Regions from separate parts of the Homo sapiens genome. Here regions 2, 3, 4, 5 and 6 are each linked to region 1. Evidence: fine-mapped expression QTL. A gene starts in region 1. Each other region holds a variant in brackets. All regions are shown on one strand. Distances are from middle to middle.

Region 1 (4,707 bases):
ACTGTGTTGCCTTTGTCGCATGGGTGAGGAGATGGGGCACAAAGGGGCTTTCCCCCAACAGGAAGGCCTTAGAAGGCTTCATGGAGCAAGAGTGCCAGATGGAAGGGCAGGGCAACTGTGTGAAGAGCTTAAGCAGAGCCTGGAGCAGCCATTGCAGCACAGAAGCTTCCAGGGAGGCAGATCTAGAGCTGCCCATGAGTTGGATCCAAGGGACCAGGTGATTGGCTGCATAGGGGAGATGGGGGAAGGAGCCCCACTCCTCAAACTGGAAGCCTCAGTTTTTTTTTTTTTTTTTTTTAGACAGAGTCTCGCTCTGTTGCCCAGGTTGCTATTTCTTTGTATTTTAGTAGAGACGGGGTTTCACAATGTTGGCCAGGATGGTCTCGATCTCCTGAACTCCTGATCCGCCCGCCTAGGCCTCCCGAAGTGCTGGGATGACAGGCGTGAGCCACCGCGCCCGGCCGGAAGCCTCAGTTTTTAGGAGGCCCAAGCCACTGTGCACGCTGAAAGCACTTCTAGAGAGAGACACTGCGCCCATGCTGGGGGGCGGGTGAAAACACCTACGGTGGCTCCCGCCATAGAGGAGGGTGGGGAAGGGACAGTGGGCACGCACCCGCTGCCAGATGGCCTCCTGGCCGCTCCAGGCCAGTGCCAGGTTGATGCCATTCAGCGCCATCCAGTCTATCTCTCGCTCCCAGCGGGCCCAGTCCCACCACACGAAAGAGTAGCTTTGCGTGCACACATTCTGGTAATAGCGGTACCTGCGGGCAGTGTCATGAGCAGGGGCGCATCCCACCCTGGAGGGTCCACGGCCCTGGAACAAATCCCCCATCCCCCACCTAGAGGAGAGGGGAGGGGCTCCAAACTCGGCCCTTCTGCTGCACACTGGGACCCACCCCAGGTGGAGCTGAGACCAGGTACCGGGGCTGGGCTTCTGAGGCACTCGTCCCCTGCACTCTCCCAGGGCCCTCTAGCCTGGCGGGTATTTGGGTGGCATATTCCACTTTCATGCCACACTGCCAGAGCCCCTCCTCTGCACGGTGTTTTCCTGGAACGGGGAATCCCTGCCCCCACAGTCTAACAGATGGGCAGGGGAGGACAGCTGTGTGAACACATCACTCCATAGTGTGGCAGGCGCTGGAACACAGGCCTGTAGGGTGGGGGATGGAGGCGTCCTTCCTCAGTCCGCAGGTTCAAAGAGAAGGTGGGGGAGGAAGGCAAGAAAATTCACTCATCACCAATTGTGCACCACAAATTCTATGCCCATCATCGTGCAAATCCTCACAATAACACTGCACGGTAGGCGTCTTCTTTCCGTTTTTCAGGTGGGCCAGCCGAGGCTCTGAAAGGCAGAGTGGCTGGCTCAAGGCCACACAGCTGCTGGAGGCGGCGCAGCTGGGCCTTCCGGCCAGCGCTCCCCGCTCAGCCTCCCGATTTGGGTGGCAGCGGCTCCGGGAGGGGGTAAGCGCCTCGGGCGGACGCGGGGAAGCTTCGGGGCGGTACCTGTTGGGCGTGGCCTCGGTCAGCTCCCCCGGCACGGCTGGCAGTGGCCGCGGCAGGCGCAGCTGAGAGCCGGACCAGGCCACGTGGCAGCCACAGAAGTCGCGCAGGTAGCGGTGCAGCCCCGCGGCGGCCGCCACGCCCGTGGAGCCGCGCACCCGCACGCGCGCCGCGCCGCCGCCGCCCAGGCTGTAGGTGTCCAAGCCCGGCTTGGCAGCCAGAGCGCGCTCCACCGACACGGAGAAGTCGGCCGCGGGGCCTGGCCCCAGCAGCCGGGCCACGAGCGCCCGCACGGCCGCCGCCTCCCGGGCCTCGTCGCCTGCCGCGCCCCCGGCCCCGGCCAGGAGAAGGACCCCCACCGCCGCGGCCACCGCCACCGCCTCCATGGTCTCAGTCCTGCGGGTCCCGCGACGGCCAGGGGGTGGGGCGGCCCGCGTCCAATCAGCTGCCGGCCTCCGGCCACGTGGACCCGAAGGCTAAGCCCGGGCTCAGGGCCAGGAGTCGCGGCTTCCGGGTACCAGGATACTCCCTTGGGGGCGTCTCGTGACCGCACGCGGTGGGGAGCGTGTGACCCCGGCTCCAGGGCCGAAGGGGACCCGCTGGCCCTCACAGAGCGCCTTCGGGTAAAACGCGCTTTCACACGCAAATAACTTCCATCCAACCATCTAATAAATACACATTTGGAGTTTATTTTGTATCAGGCACTGCCATAGCTACTTCCCTACTGATGAACGAGAAGACGGTCCCTACCGTCCCCGTCAGGGAGGTGACCTAGAAACCAGATATTTAACGTAAGTAAGGATTTCCATCATAGTTGTGATGCTGCGAAGTAGTGCAGTAAGTAGCGAAGTAGCGAAGTAAGGTTTCCAAAGGAAGTGACTTTTAATCTGAAACTCAGGGATGAATAGGAATTGGCTAGAAGAGGGAAAGGAAGAGCCTTCCAGACAGAAGAAATGCATTTATTGAAGGCCCTGAGAAGGCAGAGAGCTTGCAGATTTGAGTAACTAACAGGCTAGGAGGTTCGAGGAGGGATGGGGCCATGTGAGCCCAGGCCGGCGGTGGAGCAGGGCTGGCGGGCACGTTAAAGGCTGTCCATTGGCGGCAGCAGCAGCAACATAACAGGAGCTGTCATTTTGTCAGAAGTTTCCAACCAGAGCGACTCCATCTTGAACAGGGGCTGGGTAAAATGAGGCAGAGACCTGCTGGGCTGAATTCCCAGGAGGTTAGGCCTTCGTCACAGGATGAGACAGGAGGTCAGCACAAGATAAAAGGTCACAAGACCCCGCTGATAAAACAGAATGCAGCAAAGAAACTGGTCAAAACCTGCCAAAACCAAGACAGGAAGGTGACCTCTGATCGTCCTCACTGCTCATTATACGCTAATTATAATGCATTAGTATGCTAAAGACACTCCTAGCAGCGCCAGGCAGTTTACAAATGCCATGGCAACGTCCAGAAGTTACCCTATATGGTCTAAACAGTGGAGGAACCTTCAGTTGGGGGGGATCCCCACCCCTTTTCTGAAAAATTCATTACTAACCCACCCCTTGTTTATCATATAATCAAGAAATAACCATAAAAATAGCCAACCTTAGGCCAGGAGCGGTGGCTTACGCCTGTAATCCCAGCACTCTGGGAGGCTGAGGCTTGCAGATCACCTCAAGTCAGGGGTTTGAGACCAGCCTGGCCAACATACAGTGAAACCCCGTCTGTACTAAAAATACAAAAGTTAGCCAGGTGCTGGGCGCGGTGGCTCACGCCTGTAATCCCAGCACTTTGGGAGGCCAAGACGGGCGGATACGAGGTCAGGAGATCAAGACCCTCCTGGCTAACACGGTGAAACTCCATCTCTACTAAAAATACAAAAAATTAGCCGGGCGTGTTGGCGAGCGCCTGTACTCCCAGCTACTCGGGAGGCTAAGGCAGGAGAATGGCGTGAACCGGAGAGGCGGAGGTTGCAGTGAGCCAAGATCACACCACTGCACTCCAGCCTGGGGGACAGAGCAAGACTCCCTCTCAAAAAAAAAAAAAAGAAAAAAAGTTAGCCAGGCTTGGTGGCACACGCCTGTAGTCCCAGCTACTTGGGAAGCTGAGGCAGGAGAATCGCTTGAACGCTGGAGGTGGAAGTTGCAGTGAGCCAAGATCGTGCCATTTGCATTCCAGCCTGGATGACAGAGCGAGACTCCATATCAAAAAAACAAACAAACAAACAAAAAAAGTTGAAAGAGGCCTGGAATCAGATATCAACTTTAGATACTAGGGAAGTATGATTTTTTTTTTTAATCTCAGCTCACGGGAACCTCAGCCACCCAGGTTCAAGCCATTCTCCTGTCTCAGTCTCCTGAGTAGCTGGGATTACAGGCACGTGCCACCAAGCCCAGTTAACCTTTGTAGGGATGGGATTTCACCATGTTGTCCAGGCTGGTCTCGAACTCTTTTTTTTTCTTAAACATTTTATTCATTTTATAGAGAGATTTCTTGTTTGCTTTTGTTCTGATCATTAGGAGAGTGGTTGAGGAGTATTGAATCCATCACTACTTTGATGACACAGGTAAGAGTCCAGATTCACATTTCCAGGTACCAGGAGTTCCCTCTAAATGCCACAATCAAGTCAGCCTTCATTTACATTTCTTTCTGCTGAACACAGCAATGCCCATTGGTATCTCTGAAGCGTAATCGCATCTTAAGTAAAGCAGCTGTTTGGAATTTAACACTCCCCTTCTTTTTTGTCTTATAAACTGAACTGCATCTACGTACTTCATTCCACATTCAATCAAAGCAAGTGCAACCAGCACAGGTGCCCTTCCCAATTCCACAACGCAATGCACTGCAACACAGCAACCTGGCTCTTCACGAAATTTGGTGTTTAACAGGTTTAACCAATCATCTACTATCTGATTAGGGGATGGAGCTCCATCATCAAATGGCCAATCTAGAACGTGGATTCCTTCTTTTTCAACTGGAGCTTTATCATATGTAGCATCACAAACTCAAACCGAAGTCGTCACTCCATACTTCTTAAGTTCCTCTGTGAACTTGTTGAGAGTAGCATTGGTAGGGTTGTGAGTTATCAGAAAACACATGTTCTCATAGGAGATCTCCACAGGGGCTAGACGGTTCATTACGGCAAATAAAAAGTGTGAGCGTGCCTGTGAGTGTGATGGGGAAAGTGAAAAAAAAAATCAATAAATCTTGAAATGTTTAACA
Region 2 (4,869 bases), 87 kb after region 1:
ATCTCTTTTTTTTTTTTTTTTTTTGAGACGGAGTCTCGCTCTGTCGCCCAGGCTGGAGTGCAGTGGCGCGATCTCAGCTCACTGCAAGCTCCGCCTCCCAGGTTCACGCCATTCTCCTGCCTCAGCCTCCGGAGTAGCTGGGACTACAGGTGCCCGCCACCACGCCCGGCTAATTTTTTTGTATTTTTAGTAGAGACGAGGTTTCACCGTGTTAGCCAGGATGGTCTCAATCTCCTGACCTCATGATCCGCCCGCCTCGGCCTCCCAAAGTGCTGGGATTACAGGCGTGAGCCACCGCGCCTGGCCCGAGTGTATCTCTTTGTGTAGATTTTTTAAGTGGTTGTAATGGGTTTCATATTATACATATATAAATTATCACAGTCAACTGATGTCAATATTTTTTCTTTTTTCTTTCTTTTTTTTTTTTTTTTTTAAGACGGAGTCTCTCTCTATCGCCCAGACTGGAGTGCAGTGGCGCAATCTTGGCTCACTGCAACCTCTGCTTCCCAGATTCAAGCGATTCTCCTGCCTCAGTCTCCTGAGTAGCTGGGATTGCAGGCATGTGCCACCATGCCCGGCTAACTTTTGTATTTTTAGTAGAGACAGGGTTTCACCATATTGACCAGGCTGGTCTTGAACTCCTGAACTCAGGTGATCCACCTGCCTCGGCCTCCCAAAGTGCTGGGATTACAGGCGTGAGCCACTGTGCCTGGCCAACTGATGTCAATATTTTTATCAGCTTGAGTGAAGTATAAAACTCTTACCTCCATTTTAGTCTTTTTACTTTCCCATTTACAACATAATTGTCTTAAATATTTCCTCAACATACTTTGCAAACCACATTGGACAATGTTACACAGTCTGCTTCAACCATCAAACATAATTGAGAAAACTCAAGAGGAGAAGTGTTTTTTTTGTTGTTGTTGTTTTGTTTTTTTTTTATTGATCATTCTTGGGTGTTTCTTGCAGAGGGGGATTTGGCAGGGTCATAGGACAATAGTGGAGGGAAGGTCAGCAGATAAACAAGTGAACAAAGGTCTCTGGTTTTCCTAGGCAGAGGACCCTGCGGCCTTCCGCAGTGTTTGTGTCCCTGGGTACTTGAGATTAGGGAGTGGTGATGACTCTTAATGAGCATGCTGCCTTCAAGCATCTGTTTAACAAAAACATCTTGCACCGCCCTTAATCCATTTAACCCTGAGTGGACACAGCACATGTTTCAGAGAGCACAGGGTTGGGGGTAAGGTCATAGATCAACAGGATCCCAAGGCAGAAGAATTTTTCTTAGTACAGAACAAAATGAAAAGTCTCCCATGTCTACTTTTTTCTACACAGACACAGCAACCATCCGATTTCTCAATCTTTTCCCCACCTTTCCCCCTTTTCTATTCCACAAAACCGCCATTGTCATCATGGCCCGTTCTCAATGAGCTGTTGGGTACACCTCCCAGACGGGGTGGTGGCCGGGCAGAGGGACTCCTCACTTCCCAGTAGGGGCGGCTGGGCAGAGGTGCCCCCCACCTCCCGGATGGGGCGGCTGGCCGGGTGGGGTCTGACCCCCCACCTCCCTCCCGGACGGGGTGGCTGGCCGGGCGGGGGCTGACCCCCCACCTCCCTCCCAGACGGGATGGCTGCCGGGCGGAGACGCTCCTCACTTCCCAGACGGGGTGGCTGCCGGGTGGAGGGGGCTCCTCACTTCTCAGAGGGGGCGGCTGCCGGGCGGAGGGGCTCCTCACTTCTCAGACGGGGCGGCTGGGCAGAGACGCTCCTCACCTCCCAGACGGGGTCACGGCCGGGCAGAGGCGCTCCTCACATCCCAGACGGGGCGGCGGGGCAGAGGTGCTCCCCACATCTCAGACGATGGGCAGCCGGGCAGAGACGCTCCTCACTTCCTAGATGGGATGGCGGCCAGGAAGAGGTGCTCCTCACTTCCTAGATGGGATGGCGGCCGGGCAGAGAAGCTCCTCACTTTCCAGACTGGGCAGCCAGGCAGAGGGGCTCCTCACATCCCAGACAATGGGCAGCCAGGCAGAGACGCTCCTCACTTCCCAGACGGGTTGGCGGCCGGGCAGAGGCTGCAATCTCGGCACTTTGGGAGGCCAAGGCAGGCGGCTGGGAGGTGGAGGTTGTAGCGAGCCGAGATCACGCCACTGCACTCCAGCCAGGGCACCATTGAGCACTGAGTGAACGAGACTCCGTCTGCAATCCCGGCTCCTCGGGAGGCCGAGGCTGGCGGATCACTCTCGGTTAGGAGCTGGAGACCAGCCCAGCCAACACAGCGAAACCCCGTCTCCACCAAAAAAATACGAAAACCTGTCAGGCGTGGCGGCGCGCGCCTGCAATCCCAGGCACTCGGCAGGCTGAGGCAGGAGAATCAGGCAGGGAGGTTGCAGTGAGCCGAGATGGCAGCAGTACAGTCCAGCTTCGGCTCGGCCTCAGAGGGAGACCGTGGAAAGAGAGGGAGAGGGAGACTGTGGGGAGAGGGAGAGGGAGAGTGAGACCGTGGGTAGAGGGAGAGGGAGAGGGAGAGGGAGGAGAAGTGTTATAGACTGAATTGTGTCTTCCCAAATTCCTATGTTGAATCCCTAACCTCTATTGTGACTGTACATTGGAGACAGGGCCTTTAAAGATGTAATTAAGATTAAATGAGGGCCGGGCACGGTGGCTCAC[T/G]CCTGTAATCCCAGCACTTTGGGAAGCCACGATGGGCAGATCATTTGAGGTCAGGAGTTTGAGACCAGCCTGACCAACATGGCAAAACTCTGTCTCCACTAAAAACACAAAAAAATTAGCCAGGAGTGGTGGCACACACCTGTAATCCCAGCTACTCGGGAAGGTGAGGCAGGAGAATTGCTTGAACCCGGGACACAGAGGTTGCTGTGAGCCGAGATTACGCCATTGCACTCCAGCCTGGGCAACAAGAGTGAAACTCCGTCTCAAAAAAAAAAAAAGAAAAGAAGAAAAAAAGGACACCAGCCGGGCTTGGTGGCTCACACCTGTAATCTCAGCACTTTGGGAGGCCGAGGTGGGAGGATCACTTGAGGTCAGGAGTTTGAGACCAGCTTGGCCAACATGTTGAAACCCCCGTCTCTACTAAAAAAAAAAAAAAGAAAATTATCTGGGTGTGGTGGCACATGCCTGTAATCTCAGCTACTCGGGAGGCTAAAGTAGGAGAATCACTTGAACCTGGGAGGTGGAGGTTGCAGTGAGCTGAGATTGTGCCACTGCACTCCATCCTGAGCAACAGAGCAAGACTCCGTCCCCCCCCACAAAAAAGGACACCAGTCCTGTTGGATTAGCCCGGCTAATTTTGTTTTTTCGGTAGAGATGGGGTTTCTCCATGTTGGCTTGTCTCGAACTCCCGACCTCAGGTGATCCGCCTGCCTTGGCCTCCCAAAGTGCTGGGATTACAGGGGTGAGCCACCACGCCCGGCCCAGTGTCCTTTTCAGAAGAGGAAAAAGCACCAGGAGTGGTCACACACAGACAAAAGGCCATGGGAGGACACAGCAAGAAGGTGGCCATCTACAGGCCAAGAAAAGAGGCCTCAGGAAAAACCAAACCTACCAACACTTTGGTCTTAGACTTCCAGCCTCCAGAACTGTGAGAAAATAAATTCTGTTGGTTAAGTTACCCAGTCTGCAGTATTTTGTTATGGAAGCCCTAGATGACTAATACAAGAAGGAAAGTATATTGCAATTACTCATATATTTGCTTTCCACGTTCTTTTTTCTTTCTTTTTTTTTTTTTTTTGAGACAGAGTCTCGCTCTGTCACCCAGGCTGGAGTGCAGTGGTGCGATCTCAGCTCACTGCAAGCTCCGCCTCCCGGGTTCACGCCATTCTCCTGCCTCAGCCTCTCTGAGTAGCTGGGATTACAGGCACCCGCCACCACGCCCGGCTAATTTTTTATATTTTTAGTAGAGACGGGGTTTCACCGTGGTCTCGATCTCCTGACCTCGTGATCCGCCCGCCTCGGCCTTCCAAAGTGCTGGGATTACAAGTGTGGGCCACTCCACGTTCTTTTTTCATCCTTGATGTTCCAAGGTCCCTTCTTTTATCATTTCCCTTTCTTTTCAAGAACTTCCTTTAGCTTTTTTTTTTTTTTTTTTGAGATGGAGTCTTGCCCTGTCACCAAGACTGGATTGCAGTGGTGCGATCTCTGCTCACTGCAACCTCCACCTCCCAGGTTCAACCGATTTTCCTGCCTCAGCCTCCAGAGTAGCTGGGACTACAGGCATGTGCCACTATGCCTGGCTAATTTTTGTATTTTTAGTAGAGACTAGGTTTTGCCACGTTGGCCAGGCTGGTCTCAAACTCCTGGCCTCAAGTGATCCGCCTGCCTCGGTTTCCCAAAGTGATGGGATTACAGGCATGAGCCACTGCACCCGGCCCCCTTTTAGCCACTTTTTTAAAGGGTAGATCTACAAATGACAAATTCTCTTAGTTTTTCTTCATCTGAAAATGTGTTGATTTCTCTTTCATCTTTGATAGTTTTTTTCTTCTAGCATTTGAAAAAAGTTGTGCCACTTTCTTCTGGCCTTTTTTAGTTTCTGGTGAGAAATCTATTGTGGTTCAATCTGTTTTTCCCTTATGAGAAAGATGTTTTTCTCTTACTGCTGTCAAGATTTTTTCTTTGTTATTAGTTTTCAGGAGTTAGATTATTACGTGTCCTGGTATAGATTTCTTTGAGTTTATCATGTTTGTGGTTTTCTCAGCTTCTTGAACTTGTAGTTCTAGGTCTCTTGTCAAATTTGAGGAATTTTCTGCCATTATTTCTTCTTTTTTTTTCTTTTTCTTTTTTTTTTTTTTTTTTTTTTTTTTTTTTTTTTTTTTTTTGAGACGGAGTCTCGCTCTGTCACCCAGGCTGGAGTGCAGT
Region 3 (4,869 bases), 95 kb before region 1:
ATTCCTAAACTGTTCTCATGTGTTTGAATCAAAGTAATTTTAATCTTATCTTTCCTAATCTGAATTGACCTCTGTGTAGCACTGTTTCTCCTTCATGGCCTATCTAGAAGCTATTGAGGATACAGAAAAAGAAAATGTATACTCTGGTGCCTTTGTTAATGTAGAGATGTCTTTCTATTTTTATTTTTGAAAGGAAGAAATAAAACTATTATTTACAGAAGACATAATTGTACATAGAAAATCCTAAGGCATGTACCAAAAAAAAAAAAAAGCTAATATGGGAGTTTAGAACTAATAAGGGAGTTTAGAAAGGTTATGGGATATATAGTCCATATAAATAAGTCAGTTGCATTTTTTTTTTTTTAGACAGAGTCTTGCTCTGTCACCCAGGCTGGAGTGCAGTGGCGCGATCTCTGCTCACTGCAACCTCTGTCTCCCAGGTTCAAGGGATTCTCCTGTCTCAGCCTCCCAAGTAGCTGGGACTACAGGCGCCTGCCACCACGCCCAGCTAATTTTTTGTGTTTTTAGTAGAGACGGGGTTTCACAGTGTGAGCCAGGATGGTCTTGATCTCCTGACTCATGATCCGCCTGCCTCGGCCTCCCAAAGTGCTGAGATTATAGGCGTGAGCCACCATGCCTGGCCATCAGTTACATTTTTTAATTAAAAATTGTTTATTTTTTAAAAAAACTTATAAAGTACATATAACATAAAATTTACTATTTAACCTTTTTAACTTTTTTTTTTTTTTTGAGACACGATCTCTCTCTCTGCTGACCAGGCTGAAGTGCAGTAGTAGCATGATCATAGGAACCTTGATTTCTTGGGCTCAGGTGATCCTCCCACCTCAGCCTCCTGGTTAGCTGGAATTATAGGTGTGTGCCACCACGACCTGTTAATTTCGTGTGTGTGTGTGTGTGTGTGTGTGTGTGTGTGTGTTTTATTTTTTTGTAGAAACAGAGTTTTTCCATGTTGCCCAAGCTAGTCGATTTTAAACTATTTATTTATTTATTTATTTTGAGACAGGGTCTTGCTCTGTTGCCCAGGCTGGAGTGTAGTGGCACAATCATGACTCACTGTAGCCTCAACCTCCTGGACTCAGACAATCCTCCTGCCTCAGCCTCCCAAGTAGCTAGGACTACAGGTGTGTGCCACCATACCTGGCTAATTTTTGTATTTTTTTGTTTTCGCCATGGGTTGTTTTGTTTTGTATTTTTTGTTTTGTATTTTTGTTTTCTCCAGATATGGGTTTTTGCCATGTTTTCCAGGCTGGTCTGGAACTCCTGGGCTCAAGTAATCCTTCTGCCTCAGCCTCTCAAAGCACTGGGATTACAGATTTTAACTATTTTTAAACATACAGTTAAGTAGTATTAAATACATTAAGATTGTGCAACCATTGAGATGTCTTCTTAAGCACAATTTTTAAATTTTTAAAAATCTTTCTTTCCTTTTTTTTCTGATGGAGGAACAGGGTCTCAGCTGGAATGCTATGGTGCAATTATAACTCACTGCAGCCTTGACCTCCTAGACTCAAGCGATCCTCCCACCTCAGCCTCCCAAGTAGCTGGGACTACAGGCATATGCCACCATACCTGGCTAATTTTTTTTTTTTTTTTTTTGGACAGAGTCTCACTCTGTTGCCCAGGCTGGAGTGTAGTGCTGCAACCTCCACCTTCCAGGTTCAAGCGATTCTCCTGCCTCACCCTCCCAAGTAGCTGGGATTACAGGCATGCACCAACATGCCCAGCTAATTTTTGTATTTTTAGTAGAGACCGCATTTCACCATGTTGGCCAGGCTTGTCTTGAACTCCTGACCTCAAGTGATCTGCCTGCCTCAGCCTCCCAAAGTGCTGGGATTACAGGTGTGAGCCACCACGCTGGGCCATGTGGCTAATTTTTGTATTTTTTTTTTTTTTAGAGACAGGGTCTTGCTATGTTGTCCAGTTGGTCTCCAACTACTGGGGTCAAGTAATCCTCCTGCCTCAGCTTCCCAAAGTACTGGGATTGTAGGTGTGAGCCACTGTGCCCATCCTAAACACAAAATGTTTAACACGAATCATTATATTTATATAAGCCTAATGGAATGAGGGCCGGGCATGGTGGCTCATGGCTGTAATCCCAATATTTGTGAGGCCAAGGCAGGAGGAACACTTGAGGCCAGGAGTTCTAGACCAGACTGGGCAACACAGCAAGACCCTGTCACTACAAAAAAATAAATATTGGCCTTTTAGGAATTCATAACTCTTTATTTCACTAGTTAAGGATTTAAATAGTATTAGCTGGTGCTTCAATTATTTGTAAGCCACAGTTAGCAGACTTTAGTTCAACAGCATCGCAGGGTGCATGTTGAGTTCCTGGCAGTAACAAATCAATAACATTTTACTTCTGATTTTGTTTGAAAGAAAACCTTATGATGGGCCAGGCACAGTGGCTTATGCCTGTAATCCCAGCATTTTGGGAGGCCAAAGTAGGTGAACTGCTTGAATCTAGGAGTTCAAGACCAGCCTGGGCACCACGGTGAAACCCCGTCTCTATGTTATTAAAAAAATTGTATTTTAAAAGGAAACCTTAGGCCAAGCGCAGTGGCTCACACCTGTAATCCCAGTACTTTGGGAGGCCAAGGCAGGTGGATCACCGGAGGTCAGGAGTTC[G/A]AGACCAGCCTGACCAACATGGTGAAACCCTGTCTCTACTATAAATACAAAATTAGCTGAGCATGGTGGCGCATGCCTGTAATCCCAACTACTCGGGAGGCTGAGACAGGAGAATCACTTGAACCTGGGAGGTGGAGGTTGCAATGAGCTGAGATCGCACCACTGCACTCCAGCCTGGACAACAAGAACGAAACTCTGTCTCAAAAAATAATAATAATAAATAAATAAAATGAAACCTTACGATGATTTCATTTTATATGTGTCTGGGTTTGCTTTTTCTTCCCCAGATGATGTGTTTGTTGGTTAAGCGTATGTATGGCACAAGTATATGTGATATGTTTCTTTCATTTGTATTGGAAAAGAATTAATTTTACCAAGTATTATTTATGTTCCCAAGTGATTGTTAGAATTGAGTAATGCAAACGACTGATAATAGGAATCTGGCTTCTACTCAACTTGAAAAAGAGGTATTGGTGCCAATGGTAAACTCCTTATCTGCACTAGCAGAGGGCTGGTATTGTACACATTTCCCTGAAACAGAATATCTAAATGGACTCTGTGTCCTTTTGAATGTATCACAATCTTAGAATAACAGACTCCTCTAGAAGCCGAACCCCTTATTTTACAAACCCCTAACCCCCATCAGACACAGGTGTTCCCCTTCCAGTTTTTCTCTCGTACCTTGTCCAACCTTCATTATAGCCCTAATCACACAGGTACATGATGAGTTATTTACATTAACACATAAACAATGGAATGAGCAATTCTTCAGCCATACTATATCTTGCTCATCTTTGTTGTCTTCAGCACTTAGCACAATGCCTGGAACTTACTAGCTACTCAATACATATTTGTTGAGCAACAGAATGATGAAACTGAGGCCCAGGGACAGGAAGTGACCTGCCCAAGATCACAAATGTAGTAACAACATTCTGAGAGACAGGTTATGATAACATTTTAATTACATTACATTGCTGGGAAACACATAGTAAGAAGCCAGAACAGAGCTGGATCTTGGAATAAAATTTTGATCACAGGTTATTGACAGAATTAAAATTAATGGCTGGGCACAGTGGCTCACACTTGTAATTCCAGCACTTTGGGAGGCCAAGGAAGGAGAATTGCTTGAACCCAGGAGTTTCAGACCAGTTTGGGTAACATAGTGAGACCCTGTCTCTACAAAAAATAAAAAAATTAGACAGGTGTGGTGGTGTGCACCTGTAGTCCCAGTTACTTGGGAGGCTAAGGTAGGAGGATTGCTTGAGTCTGGGAGGTTGAGGCTGCAGTGAGCCATGATCCTGCTACTGCCTTCCAGCCTGGATGACAGAGTGAGACCTTGTCTCAAAAAACAAAGGAGAAATTCACGTGACAATTCACAGCATCAAAAGTTGACTCTGTCGGCTGGGCACAGTGGCTCATGCCTGTAATCCCAGCAGTTTGTGAGGCCGAGGCAGGTGGATCACCTGAGGTCAGGAGTTCATGACCAGCCTGGCCAACATGGTGAAACTTCATCTACTAAAAATACAAAAATAGCTGGGCATGGTGATGCACATCTATAATCCCAGCTACTAGGGAGGCTGAGGCAGGAAAATCACTCAAACCTGGGAGGCGGAGGTTACAGTGAGCAGAGATCACGCCACTGCACTCCAGCCTGGGTGATACAGCAAGACTCCATCTCAAAAAAAAAAAAAAAAAAAAAAAGAGTTGACTCTTTCGTCTATCTTCAGAGTTTTATTTTTTTAATTCCTTAGTTTTGTTTTTCTTGCTAATGCTGTACCTTAGGAATGGTGGGTCCATGTTTGTAGACAAGAGAAGCCACCTTGGTTGTTTTTCCCATAGCTGGGAAAGGCTAGAACACAAGAAGTCCCAATTCTATGGAAGGGCAGGGAGATCTTTCCCTATCCCGAGGATCCATAGGCCTTCAATTGTGTTCATGATGAATCTTTGTGAGATGTATAGAATCATTTTTGGCATAGTTTGGGGAAGGCTGGTGGTAACCCCAGCATATGTGTGCATATGATGAGCATTTAGGCTTGTACCAAAATCAAGGCTGTATTTGATGAGGCAGAGAGGGTTGGAGTAGGATGTCAGCATGAGCGAATACCAGCTCAATGGTGGCTGCGGCCTTTGAGAAGGTCAAAGTGACCCAGGAAATGTAATCTGGCCAGTGGCCGGGTGGCAATTGTCACTGAGCTCAGCAGAGTCTTCCCTGAAGACTTT
Region 4 (4,869 bases), 190 kb before region 1:
AGAACTTCTTGAGTGCTAAATTAAAAACAAGATACCACAGGAGGACAGAGGCTAAGCTTTTTGATAATTGGACCACAAATTGCTGATGTGAAATTTTGTTGTTGTTGTTTTTTTTTGTTTTGTTTTTGTCTTTTGTTTTTGTTTTGAGACGGAGTCTTGCTCTGTCGCCCAGGCTGGAGTGCAGTGATGTGATCTCGGTTCACTGCAACTTCCACCTCCCGGTTTCAAGCCATTCTCCTGCCTCAGCCACCTGAGTAGCTGGGATTATAGGCGTGTGCCACCACATCCAGCTAATTTTTGTATTTTTAGTAGAGACGGGGTTTCAGCATCTTGGCCAGGCTGGTCTTGAACTCCTGACCTCGTGATCCACCCACCTTGGCCTCCCAAAGTGCTGGGATTACAGGCATGAATCACCATGCCCGGACTTTTTTTTTTTTCTTTTTTGAGATGGAGTCTCACTGTGTCACCCAGGCTGGAGTGCAGTGGTGCGATCTCGGCTTACTGCAACTTCCACCTCCCAGGTTCAAGAAATTCTCGTGTCTCAGCTTCCCACATAACTGGGATTACAGGCACAAGCCACCATGCCCGACTAATTTTTTTTTTTTTTTGTATTTTTAGTAGAGACGGGGTTTCACTATGTTGGCCAGGCTAGTCTTGAACTACTGACCTCAGAAGATCCACCCACCTTGGCCTCCCAAAGTGCTGGGATTACAGGCGTGAGCCACCGTGCCTGGACTTCTTGTTGTTTTTTGTTTTTTTGTTTTGTTTTGTTTTTTGAGACAAGGTCTCACTCTGTCACTCAGGCTGAAGTGCAGTGGCGTGGTCACGGCTCAATGCAGCCTTGACCTCCTGGGCTCAAGCAGTCCTCCCACATCAGCCTCCTGAGTAGCTGGGACTACAGGCACTGGCCAACACATCTGGCTAACTTTTGTATTTTCTGTAGAGATGGGGTTTCACCATGTTGCCCAAGGTTGTCTCAAATCACTGGGCTCAAGTAGTGCTCTCACCTCGGCTTCCTAAAGTGTTGGTTTTACAGGTGTGAGCCCCTGCCTCTTTTTTTTAAATTGAAACTTTCTGTTGAACTCACACATTTGGGTTCTTTAAATGTGTGTTTTTATGAGTAAATTTAATGGGAATGAAAGCATAATTGATCTTTTTTTTTTTTTTGTATTTGAGGAATGCTTTATTTCCAGGCAATAAAATGCTATTTCTCATCTCTGTCTCTCTTAGATTACAGCAAGATGGAAATACCAAATCCCCCTACCTCCAAATGTATCACTTACTGGAAAAGAAAAGTGAAATCTGAATACATGCGACTTCGACAACTTAAACGGCTTCAGGCAAATATGGGTGCAAAGGTAAAAAATAATTCCCAAGTGAAAGTTTATATATTTCAATATACTGACCCAGTGTAAAGGGGTTGGAATTTTTTTTTTTTTTTGAGACAGAGTCTCACTCTGTCACCCAGGTTGGAGTGCAGTGGCGTAATCTCAGCTTACTGCAAGCTCCACCTCGCAGGTTCACGCCATTCTCCTGCCTCAGCCTCCCGATTAGCTGGGACTACAGGCGCCTGCCACCACGCCCGGCTAATTTTCTTGTATTTTTAGTAGAGATGGGGTTTCACCATGTTAGCCAGGATGGTCTCGATCTCCTGACCTCGTGATCCGCCCGCCTCAGCCTCCCAAAGTGCTGGGATTACAGGTGTGAGCCACCGCGCCTGGCCCAGGGGTTGGAATTTCTTTTTAACTTTTGTTTTGAAATCGTAACAGGGCCAGGTGCGGTGGCTCACACCTGTAATCCCAGCACTTTGGGAGGCTAAGGCAGGTGGATCACCTGAGGTCAGGAGTTCGAGACCAGCCTGTCCTACCTGGTGAAACCTCGTCTCTACTAAAAATACAAAAATTAGCCGGGCGTGGTGTCATATGCCTGTAATCCCGGCTACTTGGGAGGCTGAGGCAGGAGAATTGCTTGAACCCAGGAGATAGAGGTTGCAGTGAGCCGAGATGGCACCACTGCACTCCAGCCTGGGTGACAGAGCAAGACTCCATCTCAAAAAAAAAAAAAAAGGCCAGGCACGGTGGCTCATGCCTGTAATTCCAGCACTTTGGGAGGCTGAGGCAGGCAGATCACTTGAGGCCAGGAGTTTCAAACCAGCCTGGCCAACATAGTGAAACCCTGTCTCTACCAAAAATACAAAAATTAGCCAGGTGTGGTGGTCTGTGCCTGTAATCCCAGCTACTTGGGAGGCCGAGGTAGGAGAATCGCTTGAACCCGGGAGGCGGAGGTTGTGGTGAGCTGAGATCGCGCTACTACACTCCAGCCTGGGTGACAACAGAGCAAGACTCCATCTCAAAAAAATAAATTATTAATTAATTAATAAAATAACAATATATCTTAATCTTTTCCATGGCTTTGCTAGGCTTTGTATGTGGCAAATTTTGCAAAGGTTCAAGAAAAAACCCAGATCCTCAATGAAGAATGGAAGAAGCTTCGTGTCCAACCTGTTCAGTCAATGAAGCCTGTGAGTGGACACCCTTTTCTCAAAAAGGTACTTTTGGGAGTTTAAGCTCAGTCTTCCTCTCTTCCTTGGGCTTAAAGCTTTTTCCTATATTTGTGACTTTTTAGAAAGTGAATAAGTAAGACAAGGTATGGTGGCTCACACAAGTATTCCCAGCTATTTGGGAGGCTGAGGTGGGAAAATCGCTTGAGGTGAGGAGTTTGAGACCAGCCTGGGCAACATAGACTGTGTCTCTAAAAAATTTTTT[A/T]AAAAAGTAGCCAGACATGGTGGTGTAGTCCTAGCTACTTGTGAGGCTGAGGTGGAAGGATTTCTTGAGCCCAGAAGTTCAAGGCTGAAATAAACTATGATTTCACCACAACACTCCAGTCTGGGTTGACAGACAAGACCTTATGTCCAAAAAAGAAAAAGGAAAGAAAGGAAATAAATAAATAAGGTTAAGGTTAATAGATACAGCTATTTTAGTCAACTTTGAATAATTAAGATAGTAAATCTGCAGCTTCAAGAATAATTACGGGGGCTGGACGCAGTGGCTCACACCTGTAATCTCAGCACTTCGGGAGGCTGAGGCAGATGGATCACTTGAGGCCAGGAGTTTGAGACCAGCCTGGCCAACATAGCGAAACACTGTCTCTACTAAAAATACAAAAGTTAGCTGCGTGTGATGGTGCACACCTATAATCCCAGCTACTTGGGAGGCTGAGGCCTGAGAACCTCTTGAACCTAGGAGGCAGAAGTTGCAGTGAGCCAAGATCACACCACTGCACTCCAGCCTGGGTGAAAGAGTGAGACTGTGTCTCAAAAAAAATAATAAATAATAAATAAATAAAAGAATTTTCTAGTTAAGAAACTTTGGCTGGACGCGGTGGCTCACACCTGTAATCCCAGCACTTTGGGAGGCCGAGGTGGGTGGATCACCTGAGGTCAAGAGTTTGAGACCAGGCTGGCCAACATGGTGAAACCCCATCTCTACTAATAGTACAAAAAAATTAGCCAGGCATGGTGGCACACTTCTGTAATCCCAGCTACTAGGGAGGCTGAGGCAGGAGAATTGCTTGAACCCGGGAGGTGGAGGTTGCAGTGATCTGAGATGGCACCATTGTACTTCAGCCTGGGCAACAAGAGCAAAACACCATCTCCAAAAAAAAAGAAACTTTATGAAAATAAATTATCATTATTATTATTTAGAGACAAGATCTCACTATGTCACCCAGACTGGAGTGCAGTGTCATGATCATAGCTTACTGTAACCTCCAACACCTGGGAAATAGATAATATTTTTAAAATATAAAAAGTAAATATTATCTAGGCATGGTAGTGTATGCCTATAATCCCAGCTACTCGGGAGGCTGAGGTGGGAGAATCACTTGAACCCAAGAGTTCAAGGCTGCAGTGAGCTATGATCTCCAGCCTGGGCGACAGCGAGACTCCGTCTCAAAAAAAAAAAAAAAAAAGAGACTGTCTCTTAAAAAAAAAAAAAAAAAGCAGAAGCTGGGTGCAGTGGCTCATGCCTGTAATCCCAGCACTTTTAGAGGCTGTGACAGGTGGATCACCTGAGGTCAGGAGTTCAAGACCAGCCTGGCCAACATGGTGAAACCCTGTCTCTACTAAAAATACAAAAATTGGCCGAGCGTGGTGGCGTGCACCTATAATCCCAGCTACTCAGGAGGCTGAGGCAGGAGAATTGCTTGAACCTGGGAGGCGGAGGTTGCAATGAGCCAAGATCGTGCAACTGCACTCCAGCCTGGGCGACAGAGTGAGACCCTGTCTCAAAACAAAAAACGAAAAGCAGATAGTGTATTGAGAGCAAATATCTTTCCTGAAGCAGAATGTTACTATAATTTCTATACCACTTTGCTTCTCCATGTACTATCCCTATCACCTATGCAGCTAAGTTGATGTCCACTGTCTTAAAGTTTAGGTCTTCAGAAAACTTCCTCATCTTTTAGGACTTTCAGAGGCTCTTTACTGTTGTGTATAACCCAGGTAGACCAACAGTTTGAGCTGAGGTAAACATCAGCTGAGTATGGGAAGTACTGTGCTGAACTCTATAGAGGACACAAAGGTGAATAAGAGTCCCTTCTTTTGGCTGGGCATAGTGGCTCACACATGTAATCCCAGCACTTTGGGAGGCTAAGGCAGGATGATTGCTTGAGTCCAGGAGTTGGAGACCAGCGTGGGCAATATAGCGAGACCCTGTCTCTACAAAAAAAAAAAAGAAAAATTAGCTGTTTAACTGGATGTAGTAGCACATGCCTGTAATCCCAGCTTCTCGGGAGGCTGAGGTTGGAGGATGGCTTTAGCCTGGGAGGCAGAGGCTGCAGTGAGCTGTGATTGCACAACTGCACTCAGCC
Region 5 (4,869 bases), 95 kb after region 1:
CATATGTGACTGCATTTATATGATATGTCTAGAGTAGACAAATCTATAGAGGCAAAAAGTGGATTATTAATGCCTAGGGCTGGGGTGATGGGGAGAATGGAACGTGATGGCTAAAGGGCATGGGGTTTCTTGGCCAGACACAGTGGCTCACACCTGTAATCTCAGCATTTTGGGAGGCTGAGGCAGGAAGATGGCTTGAGCCCAGGAGTTCAAGACTAGCCTGGGCAACATAGTGACACCCAGTCTCAACAAAAAAGAATAAATATTGTTTTAAAGAAAAAATAATAAAGTCAAAAAAGTGAAAAAAATAATAAAAGGGCATGGGGTTTCTTTTCAGGGTGATTTTTTAAAGTTCTGAATTTTTTTTTTTTTTTTTTTTTTTGAGACAGGGTCTCACTCTGTCACCCAGGCTGGTGTGCAGTGGCATCATCACAGCTCACTACAGCCTTGACTTTCTGGGCTTAAGCGAGCCTCCCACCTCAACCTCCCAAGTAGCTGGGACTACAGGTACTGGGACTCCCGAGTAGCTGGGACTATAGTTTATGCACAGAATTTGAGCCTCCCTCTCTGTGGCTCTTATTTTGATAGGATTTCCTCCCATTATTTCCACCTGCTGGGGTTGCCCTGAACAATTCAAGCTAGTAAGACTGCAGGGTTTGGGTTTTTGTTGTTTTGTTTTTGTTGTTGTTGTCGTCGTTTTAAGAGATAAGATCTCGAGCACAGTGGTTCATGCCTGTAATCCCAGCACTTTGGAAGGCTGAAATGGGCTGATCACCTGAGGTCAGGAGTTCAAGACCAGCCCGGGCAACATGGTGAAACCCTGTCTCTACTAAAAATAGCTGTAGTCCCAGCTACTCAAGAGACCGAGGCAGGAGAATCACTTGAACCCGGAAGGCAGAGGTTGCTGTGAGCTGAGATCACGCCACTGTACTCCAGCCTGAGCAACAGAGTGAAACTCTGTCTCAAAAAAAAAAAAAAAAAAAAGAGATGAGGTCTTACTGTGTTGCCTAGGTTGGAATACAGTGGGTATTCACAGGCACAATCTTAGTGCTCTACAGCCTTGAACTCCTGTGCTCACGGTTTCCTCACACGTCAGCCTTCTGAGTAGGTGAGACTACAGGCGCACACCACTACCCCCAGCTTTGTTTTAACCACTCACTTTGCAGACTTTGGACTTCCCTTAGACTAAAAGCTGTAAAAACACAGGAAACCCATTCAGTCCTCTTCTCTTCCAGGTATCCACCTCTGTGCAGTATATTCCTCCTGTTGTTTGCTAATGCCTTCAGGTAGTTTTTGTTTGTTCTTTAATATTTTGCTCTGAGTATATCATTCTTATTTACAGAAGACTTGGTGTGATGGGAATTACTCAGCCATAATTGGAACTTCCTCCTGTGTTTTTTGACATATTCCCATCATTTTGCTGGGGTGTTGGGGGTGGCAGGGGACTTCCTTAATTTCTATCACAATAGGATATTTTAAGCTTAGCTTATACTTTCCTTGTTCCAGCCCTGAAGTCATCCATTTCTCTAAGAAGCTGTTTCTTTGTTGTGAGGAATAATATTTAGAAACCAAGATCTTGGTACCAAGCCTGCTCATTGTTACATTGTGTTATTGCTTCTAAGCCTTCAACACACAGAGGCCAAACCTCTAGCTCTATCTCTACAAATGTATATGAAGTTATGGGTTTATACTGATGCCTCTAACACCAGTTCCACCCATCTAAGGTTCCTTTGTATTCCCTAATTCATATTTAAATCTACTTTTTTCCTACAGTGAGAACTCTAGCTTCCACATTCTTTTATATGTCATTTGCTTAATTCTATAATATGCACAATATAATGTCATAATTGCTATTCCCATACCACTTCTCCTTCAGTACAGTTTTGTTGTTCATTTGTAACATGAGTTAATTTCTGTTTTCATTCAGTTTAGGGTCTCCTCCAATCTTGGGGATTTCATTTATTGAATTTATCATTTTATTTCCAAATATTCTATTTTCAGGCCAGGCATGGTGGCTCACACCTGTAATCCCAGCGATTTGGGAGGCTGGGTCAGGAAGATCACTTGAGCTCAAGATTTTGAGACCAGCCTGGGACACATAGTTCCTGTTTCTGCAAAAGAAAAAAAAAGAAAAGGAAAAAAAAGTATATATATGTTCTATTTTGAAAACTGCTGAATCTTTTGTTGTAATAGCTTTATTGAGATATAATTCATATACCATACGACTCACCCATTTAAAGCGTACAAGTCAACAATTTTTAATACTCACAGAATTGTGCAACCATAGCCACAATTAATTTTAGAACTTTCCACTCGGGCGCAGTGGCTCCTGCCTGTAATCCCAGAACTTTGGGAGGCCAACTTGGGCAGATCACCTGAGGTCAGGAGTTCAAGACCAGCCTGGCAAACATGGTGAAACTCCATCTCTACAAAAATACAAAAATTAGCCGGGCATGATGGCGGGTGCCTGTAATCCTACCTACTCGGGAGGCTGAGGCAGGAGAATTGCTTTAACCGGGGAGGTGGAGGTTGTAGTGAGCCGAGATCACGCCATTGCACTCTAGCCTGGGCGACAGAGTGGGACTCCATCTCAAAAAGAAAAAAAAAGGAAAAAAAAGAAACCTCAGCAGAGGAGGAAAAACTGTAAAAAAAAGAAAAAAAAAGAATTTTGTGCATAGAAATTGAAAATTTGGAAATGAAAATTTCAGACTAAAAATTAAAATGTCAAAGAAATCAAGTATTACAGCTCTTTTAGAATCCGTCTAGCAGGTTTTCCAGTTTTTACCAGAAAACTCTCCAAAAAAATTTTTTTTAAATAGTCC[G/T]GGCATAGTGGCTGACACTTGTAATCCCAACAGCTGGGGAGGCCAAGGCCGGAGGATTGCTTGAACCCAGGAATTTGAGACCAGCCTGGGAGATCCTGTCTCTACAAAAAATAAAAAAATAAAAAAAAAATCCTGTCTTTACAAAAAAAAAAACAACACAAAAAATTAGTCAGGTAAGGTGGCATGTACTTGTAGTCCTAGCTAATTGGGAGGCTGAGGTGGGAGGATTGCTGAGCCCAGGAGGTTGAGGCTGCAGTGAGCCATGTTCATGGCACAGCATTCCAGCCTGGGCGACAGAGTGAGACTTTGTCTCAAAAAAATAAATAAGGGCTGGGCACAGTGGCTGTAATCCCAGCACTTTGGGAGGCCAAGGAGGGCAGATCACTTGAGGTCAGGAGTTTGAGACCAGCCTGGCCAACATGGTGAAACCCCGTCCCTACTAAAAATACAAAAATTAACTGGGCATGGTGGTGTGCACCTGTAATCCCAGCTACTCAGGAGGCTGAGGCAGGAGAATTGCTTGAACCCGGGAGGCAGAGGTTGCAGTCAGCCGAGATTGTGCCACTGCACTCCAGCCCAGCCTGGGGGACAGAGCAAGACTCCATCTCAAATAAATAAATAAATAAATAGGGCCAGGTGAGGTGGTTCACGTCTGTAATCCCAGCACTTTGGGAGGCCGAGGCAGGAGGATCACTTGGGCCCAGGGGTTTTATTTATTGTTTTAATTTAATTTAATTAATTTATTTATTTTTGTCATGGAGTCTCCTCTGTTGCCCAGGCTGGAGTGCAGTGGCGCCATCTAGGCTTACTACAACCTTTGCCTCCCAGGCTCAAGTGATTCTGTTGCCTCAGCCTCCTGAGTAGCTGGGACTGCAGGTGTGCACTGCCACACTTGGCTAGTTTTTGTATTTTTAGTAGAGACGGGGTTTCGCCAGTGTTGCCCAGGCTGGTCTCTCCTGGCCTTAAGTGATCTGCCCACCTCAGCCTCCCAAAATGCTGGGATTAAAGGCTTGAGCCACAGCACCCGGCCTGAGCCCAGAGGTTCTAGACCAGCCTAAGCAACATAGCAAAACCTCATCTCTCTCTCTCTCTCTCTATCTCTCCATATACATATATATATATTTGGCCAGGGGTGGTGGCGCTTGCCTATAATCCCAGATACTTGGGAGACTGAGGTGGGAGAATCACTTGAAACTAGGATGTGGAGGTTGCAGTGAGCCGAGATCGTGCCTCTACACTTTAGCCTGTGCAACAAAGGGAGACTCCATCTCAAAAAAAAAAAGATAACCTGACACTGGAAAAGTCTGGCAGATACCACCTTAACCTAATGATCAAGGCTAACATCACTAGTAATGGGGAAATCAAAATTGTGTACCACCTGACAGGATGCAATGAGAGCACAGCATCCCTTTCATGCTATTCCTGCTAAAGATAATACATTTCCTAAATCTAATCATGAGGAAACATCAGACAAGTCCAAACTGAGCAACATTTTGCAGATTAATTGTCCTATGATCATCAAAAGTGTCAAGGTTATGAAAGCCAAAGAAAGAATATTTCCCTGACTGAAGGATACTAAAACGATGCAGTAACTGCTAAGCATTACGTCTAATTGGATCGTTTATGCATAAAAGACATTATTGGGATAAATGGTGAAATTTTATCAGCTGCTGAGGATTAATTTCCTGATACTGATTATTGTATTATGGTTACAAAATGTATGTTGTCTATGTGGTTATGTATGTGTGTTTGGAGAAAATACACACTAAAGTATTTGGGGGTGATAAAACTTGTCAGGTTGTCAACTTACTTGCAAATAGTTCATGAAGAAATAATACTTTTGTACTTTAAAAAACAATTCTGGGCCGGGAGCGGTGGCTCACGCCTGTAATCCCAGCACTTTGGGAGGCCGAGGCGGGCAGATTGCCTGAGCTCAGGAGTTCACGACCAGCCTGGGCAACATGGTGAAACCCCATCTCTACTAAAATACAAAAAAATTAGCCAGATGTGGCAGCATGCACCTGTAATCCCAGCTACTCAGGAGGCT
Region 6 (4,847 bases), 110 kb after region 1:
ATAGTAGACGTATACATTGGAAAACAAGGCAGTTCTACATGTACTGATATGGAACTATCCATAAAACATATTAATAACTGAAAACAGGAAAGTGCTGAAATATATATATGTATGATCATATATGCAGAAATAGTCTATAGAAGATTCCGCAAGAGAATAGTAATAATAGGCTTGGCATGGTGGCTCACACCTGTAATCCCAGCACTTTGGGAGGCCGAGGTGGGTGAATCATCTGAGGTCAGGAGTTCAAGACCAGCCTCGCCAACATGGTAAAACTCCTTCTCTACTAAAAATACAAAAATTAGCCAGGCGTAGTGGCACATGCCTGTAATCTCAGCTACTTGGGAGGCTGAGGCATGAGAATTGCTTGAACCCGGGAGGCAGAGGTTGCAGTGAGCCGAGATGGTGCCACTATACTCTAGCCTGGGAAACAAGAGCAAAACTCCACCTAAAAAAAAAAAAGAGAATATAGTAATAATTGATGTCTCCTGGAAAAGAAACTAGTTGCTGGGATAGAGATAAAATTTTTTAGAGGCCGGGTGCTGTGGCTCATGCCTGTAATCCCAGCACCTTGGGAGGCCGAGGTGGGTGGATCACCTGATGTCAGGAGTTCGAGACCAGGCTGACCAACCTGGTGAAACCCCGTCTCTACTAAAAGTACAAAAAATTAGCTGGGCGAGGCCAGGCACAGTGGCTCACGCCTGTAATCCCAGCACTTTGGGAGGCCGAGGCAGGCGGATCATGAGGTCAGAAGATCGAGACCATGCTGGCTAACATGGTGAAACCCCGTCTCTACTAAAAATACAAAACATTAGCCAGGCGTGGTGGCAGGCACCTGTAGTCCCAGCTACTTGGGAGGCTGAGGCAGGAGAATCGCTTGAACCCAGGAGGCGGAAGGTGCAGTGAGCTGAGATCATGCCATTGCACTCCAGCCTGGGCAACAGAGCAAGACTCCGTCTCAAAAAAAAAAAAAAATTAGCTGGGCATGGGGGCACACACCTGTAATCCCAGCTACTTGGGAGGCTGAGGCAGGAGAATCGCTTGAACCCGGGAGGTGGAGGTTGCAGTGAGCCGAGATTGTGCCATTGCACTCTAGCCTGGGTGACAGAGAGAGACTCCATCTCAAAAAAAAAAATGATAATAATAATAATCATCATCATCTAAGGATCTTATGGGACACTTAAGAAATGAAGGTCCTATAAGGTTCTCTACTGTCACTCCTCTTTTTTCCAAAAGCTTTTTCAATCCTTAGTAGAAGGAATTTAAATTACTTTAATACATTTCTCCTAAATTCTAAAGTAAGTTGGTAATCTGCCAGTTCTAGCAGTTATATGTGTATATATGATCTTATATACTAGCTTAATTCTACTTGAGCCTCAAATGAGAAAGCCATTTGTTTGTGAGAAAACAGTTATTGAAGTGTTAGGGTACCCGGTGTGGTGGCACACCTGTAGTCCAAGCTACTTGAGAGGGTGAGGTGGGAGGATCACTTGAGTCCAGGAGGTCAAGACTGCAGTGAGCTGTGATTGTGCCACTGCACTCAGCCTGCATGACAGAGCAAGACCTTGTCTCAAAAAAAAAAAAAAAGTTGGAAAAAACACAAAGCCGAAGTGGCTCACGCCTGTATTCCTAGCATTTTGGGAGGCCAAGGCAGGTGGATCCCTTGAGCCTAGGTGTTTGAGACCAGCGTGGGCAACACGGTGAAACCCCATTTCTACAAAAAATACAAAAATTAGCTGGGTGTGATGGTGTGCGCTTATAGTCACAGCTATTTGGGAGGCTGAGGTGGGAGGATCACCTGAACCCGGGAGTTCGAGGCTGCAGGGTCAACAGAGTGAGACTCTGTCTTAAAAAAAAAAAAAAAAAGGCGGGGCACAGTGGCTCACACCTGTAATCCCAGCACTTTGGGAGGCCAAGGTGGGTGGATCACGAGCTCAAGAGATTGAGACCATCCTGCCCAACATGGCGAAACCCCGTGTCTACTAAAAATACAAAAAAAAAATTATCTGGGTGTGGTGGTGCGTGCCTGTAGTCCCAGGTACTCGGGAGGCTGAGGCAGAAGAATCGCTTGAACCCAGGAAGTGGAGGGTGCAGTGAGCCAAGACTGCACCACTACACTCCAGCCTGGCAAAAGAGTGAGACTCCATCTCAAGAAAAAAAAAAAAAAAAAGGAAAAAAAGAGGTTACCAGTAACCACGTATCTTGCCTTTCTAGCAGAAACAGTACTTCAGGATAACCTGATAAACAGCCCTAGTTGATGGCTCCATTTTCTATGAGAATTTCGGATAACAAATATGGTGTTGTAAACCCTTAAAAAACCCTACAATGTTGTTAGGGCACTAACCCAGTCCCTGCACTGTCGGTCTCCTTTCTGAGTT[T/G]GTGGGTTCTCTGTCTGGGTTGAGGAGGCCCTGGGTCCCCATAGACCAGTTTTTCACTCTTCCTAATGATAATGGATACCAGACTAGAAGTGACCTTTTGCCAGGACCATCATCCAGCCAGCTGGGGAAACCCAAGTGTGGTTTCCTAAGGAGGGAAAAGGGTTGCCGCTTTTCTGTGGGAAAGGGAGCTGGCGCCACTTCAGACACTCACAGCACCAGTGCTGTGCTAGACAGCAAAATGGGGGAGGATGGGCAGCCTCCCTATTTCTGGACTTTCTGCACTAAGGACCCTCCTTGGGCCTGCTCAGAATTGCCTGCTCCCTTGTACCCAGCATGGATGAAAATATGCTTTGGTTAATCTTCTGAAACAGCACATGGGAGTTGGGGAGTGGCTGTGGGTGCCTGTCTCCCTGCCCCAGTGGAAGGCTTAGAGCAGAAGGTGGAAAGAGCATGAAAGCAGGAGTCCAGACCTGGGTTCAAGTGCCAATGCCAACACTAACCTGCGAGTGATCTCTGGCAAGCCACCTGTCTTCTGCAGGCTTTCCTTTTCCTGTCTGTCAAATGAGGGGGTGGGATTTGATGGTCTCTCCGATGGCTTACTGTTAGTCCCTGGAATCTTGAAAGAGAAATGGACTCCTAGATCCTGCTCACTGAGATTGGTGTCAGCTGCCTCTGAGGGGGCGGTGGGAGGGGGAACACAGGGAAAGGTGAGTTTTAGAGAGAGGTGAGACGTGGGTTTGTGGGTTGCTTTTGTTTTTGTTTTTTTTGTTTTTTTGAGACAGAGTCTCACTCTGTCTGCACTCAGACAGTGGATTACCAACTGGCAGATTACCAACTTACTTTAGAATTTAGGAGAAATGTATTAAAGTAATTTAAATTCCTTCTACTAAGGATTGAAAAAGCTTTTGGAAAAAAGAGGAATTCTACTCTGTAGAATTCCACTCAGGCTGGAGTGCAATGGCGCGAATCTCAGCTCATTGCAACCTCTGCCCCCCGGGTTCAAGTGATTCTCCTGCCTCAGCCTCCCGAATAGCTGGGATTACAGGCATGCGCCACCACGCCTGGCTAATTTTGTATTTTTAGTAGAGATGGGGTTTCTCCATGTTGGTCAGGCTGAGGTCGAACTCCCGACCTCAGGTGATCCACCCACCTCCGCCTCCCAAAATGAGCCACTGCGCCTGGCCTAATTTTTGTATTTGTAACAGAGACGGGGTTTCACCATCTTGGGCCAGGCTGGTCTTGAACTCCTGACCTCGTGATCCACCCGCCTGGGCCTCCCAAAGTGCTGGGATTACAGGCATGAGCCACCGCGCCTGGCCTAAGAGAGGTGGGCTTTTAAAAAGGGCTTTACACCAGGCGCGGTGGCTCCCAGCACTTTGAGAGGCTGAAACCAGCAGATCACTTGAGCTCAGGAGTTCGAGACCAGCCTGGTCAAAATAGTGTACACCCCGTCTCTTAAAAAAATAAAAATTGAAAAAAATAAAAATTGAAATTAGCTGGGCGTGGTGGCAAGCGCCTATAGTCTCATCTACTCAGGAGGCTGAAGTGGGAGGATTGCCTGAGCCCAAGAGGTCGAGGCTGCAGTGAACTGTGATCAGACCGCTGCACTCCAGCCTGGGTGACAGAGTGACACCCTGTCTCAGAAAGGGGGGTTGGGAGGTGGGCTTTATTTTCCGTTTGATTGCCCATCTTAATTCTACTCTGTTAGGGCAATTCTAAAAAGAACTTAGAGGAGCTTCGCAGCCCTTCACCACCACCGTGACCCCAAATACGTTCTCTCTTTCTCCCCCCGCCCCCCACAAACAACCCCCTAAGCTTACCCCTGAGTTAGTAACCTGGTTGGGGTTGGTGATGAGGAAATCCGAGAGGCCTCTTAGAAAATATTGTAAAGGGCAAGGGTCCTTTTGTGCTCAAAATCTAGGTAAAGGCAAATACAAGATTTTGCCTATAATTTCAGAATCTCCTGGTCCACCCGGCTCCCAGATCTTGAGGATTTTCGGATGAGCAATTCAAGTGAGAGGGAAACAGAGAGCAACACTCTTAGAACCTGATTCCGTTCCTCAGCTCGCATTCCTCCGCCCGTCCCGCTCCCGCCGCCAGCGGAGGCCCTAGTCTCCCGCTCCAACTATTCCAACCATCCCGGGAAGGGTGGGGCGCTCGGCTCTTGGGTCCCCCTCCGCCGCCCCGCCTCGTCGATCTCCCCTTCTGCCCCGGTCCCTCCCTTTCTGGGGTGGGGCCAGCCAATCAGCGATCAGACTCCGGAGTTTGGCCCGGGAGCTGGGGAGCTCACCGATCCCCCGCCCAGCAGTTCTGGCCGCTGTCCCGGTGCGCACGGACGTGGCTCGAGTTTCCTCTGCTCTCCGCTCTCGCCCGCTAGCTCTCCTCCCTTCCGCTCCTGCTTCTCTCCGGGTCTCCCGCTCCAGCTCCAGCCCCACCCGGCCGGTCCCGCACGGCTCCGGGTAGCCATGG

The links. PIP is the estimated chance that this variant, and not a neighbour inherited with it, causes the effect. A credible set is the group of variants that fine-mapping cannot tell apart.
Region 2: its variant is the best candidate, but not a certain one, in a credible set for the expression of NAGLU in whole blood (TOPMed, PIP 0.66).
Region 3: its variant is the best candidate, but not a certain one, in a credible set for the expression of NAGLU in T cells (TOPMed, PIP 0.62).
Region 4: its variant is the best candidate, but not a certain one, in a credible set for the expression of NAGLU in esophagus mucosa (GTEx, PIP 0.80).
Region 5: its variant is the best candidate, but not a certain one, in a credible set for the expression of NAGLU in whole blood (INTERVAL, PIP 0.89).
Region 6: its variant is the best candidate, but not a certain one, in a credible set for the expression of NAGLU in whole blood (INTERVAL, PIP 0.56).

What each region holds. Positions count from the first base shown.
Region 1 is chr17:42,533,452-42,538,158 of GRCh38, reverse strand. It overlaps NAGLU (N-acetyl-alpha-glucosaminidase), which reads right to left and starts at 1,918. Exons shown (of 6, transcript NM_000263.4): 1 at 1,504-1,918; 2 at 614-761. The coding sequence starts at 1,886. It also overlaps the pseudogene PTP4A2P1. RefSeq lists silencers at 1,416-1,485, 1,606-2,015 and enhancers at 875-1,612, 2,126-2,205.
Region 2 is chr17:42,446,100-42,450,968 of GRCh38, reverse strand. It overlaps LOC102725238 (a long non-coding RNA gene), which reads right to left. Exons shown (of 4, transcript XR_007065758.1): 4 at 712-2,468. Among named protein-coding and RNA genes, the nearest start is that of ATP6V0A1, 10 kb to the left of the region's middle. The variant T/G (reference allele first, on the strand shown) is at 2,668.
Region 3 is chr17:42,628,152-42,633,020 of GRCh38, reverse strand. No RefSeq gene overlaps it. Among named protein-coding and RNA genes, the nearest start is that of TUBG1, 21 kb to the right of the region's middle. The variant G/A (reference allele first, on the strand shown) is at 2,650.
Region 4 is chr17:42,725,314-42,730,182 of GRCh38, reverse strand. EZH1 (enhancer of zeste 1 polycomb repressive complex 2 subunit) reads left to right here. Exons shown (of 21, transcript NM_001991.5): 3 at 1,231-1,358; 4 at 2,420-2,548. The coding sequence starts at 1,242. Among named protein-coding and RNA genes, the nearest start is that of EZH1, 17 kb to the left of the region's middle. The variant A/T (reference allele first, on the strand shown) is at 2,766.
Region 5 is chr17:42,438,126-42,442,994 of GRCh38, reverse strand. The region is part of intron 3 of LOC102725238 (a long non-coding RNA gene); the gene reads right to left. It also overlaps the pseudogene RNU7-97P. Among named protein-coding and RNA genes, the nearest start is that of CAVIN1, 17 kb to the right of the region's middle. The variant G/T (reference allele first, on the strand shown) is at 2,823.
Region 6 is chr17:42,423,094-42,427,940 of GRCh38, reverse strand. CAVIN1 (caveolae associated protein 1) reads left to right here and starts at 4,685. Exons shown (of 2, transcript NM_012232.6): 1 at 4,685-4,847. The coding sequence starts at 4,844. LOC102725238 (a long non-coding RNA gene) reads right to left here and starts at 4,753. Exons shown (of 4, transcript XR_007065758.1): 1 at 4,669-4,753; 2 at 2,879-3,050. The variant T/G (reference allele first, on the strand shown) is at 2,379.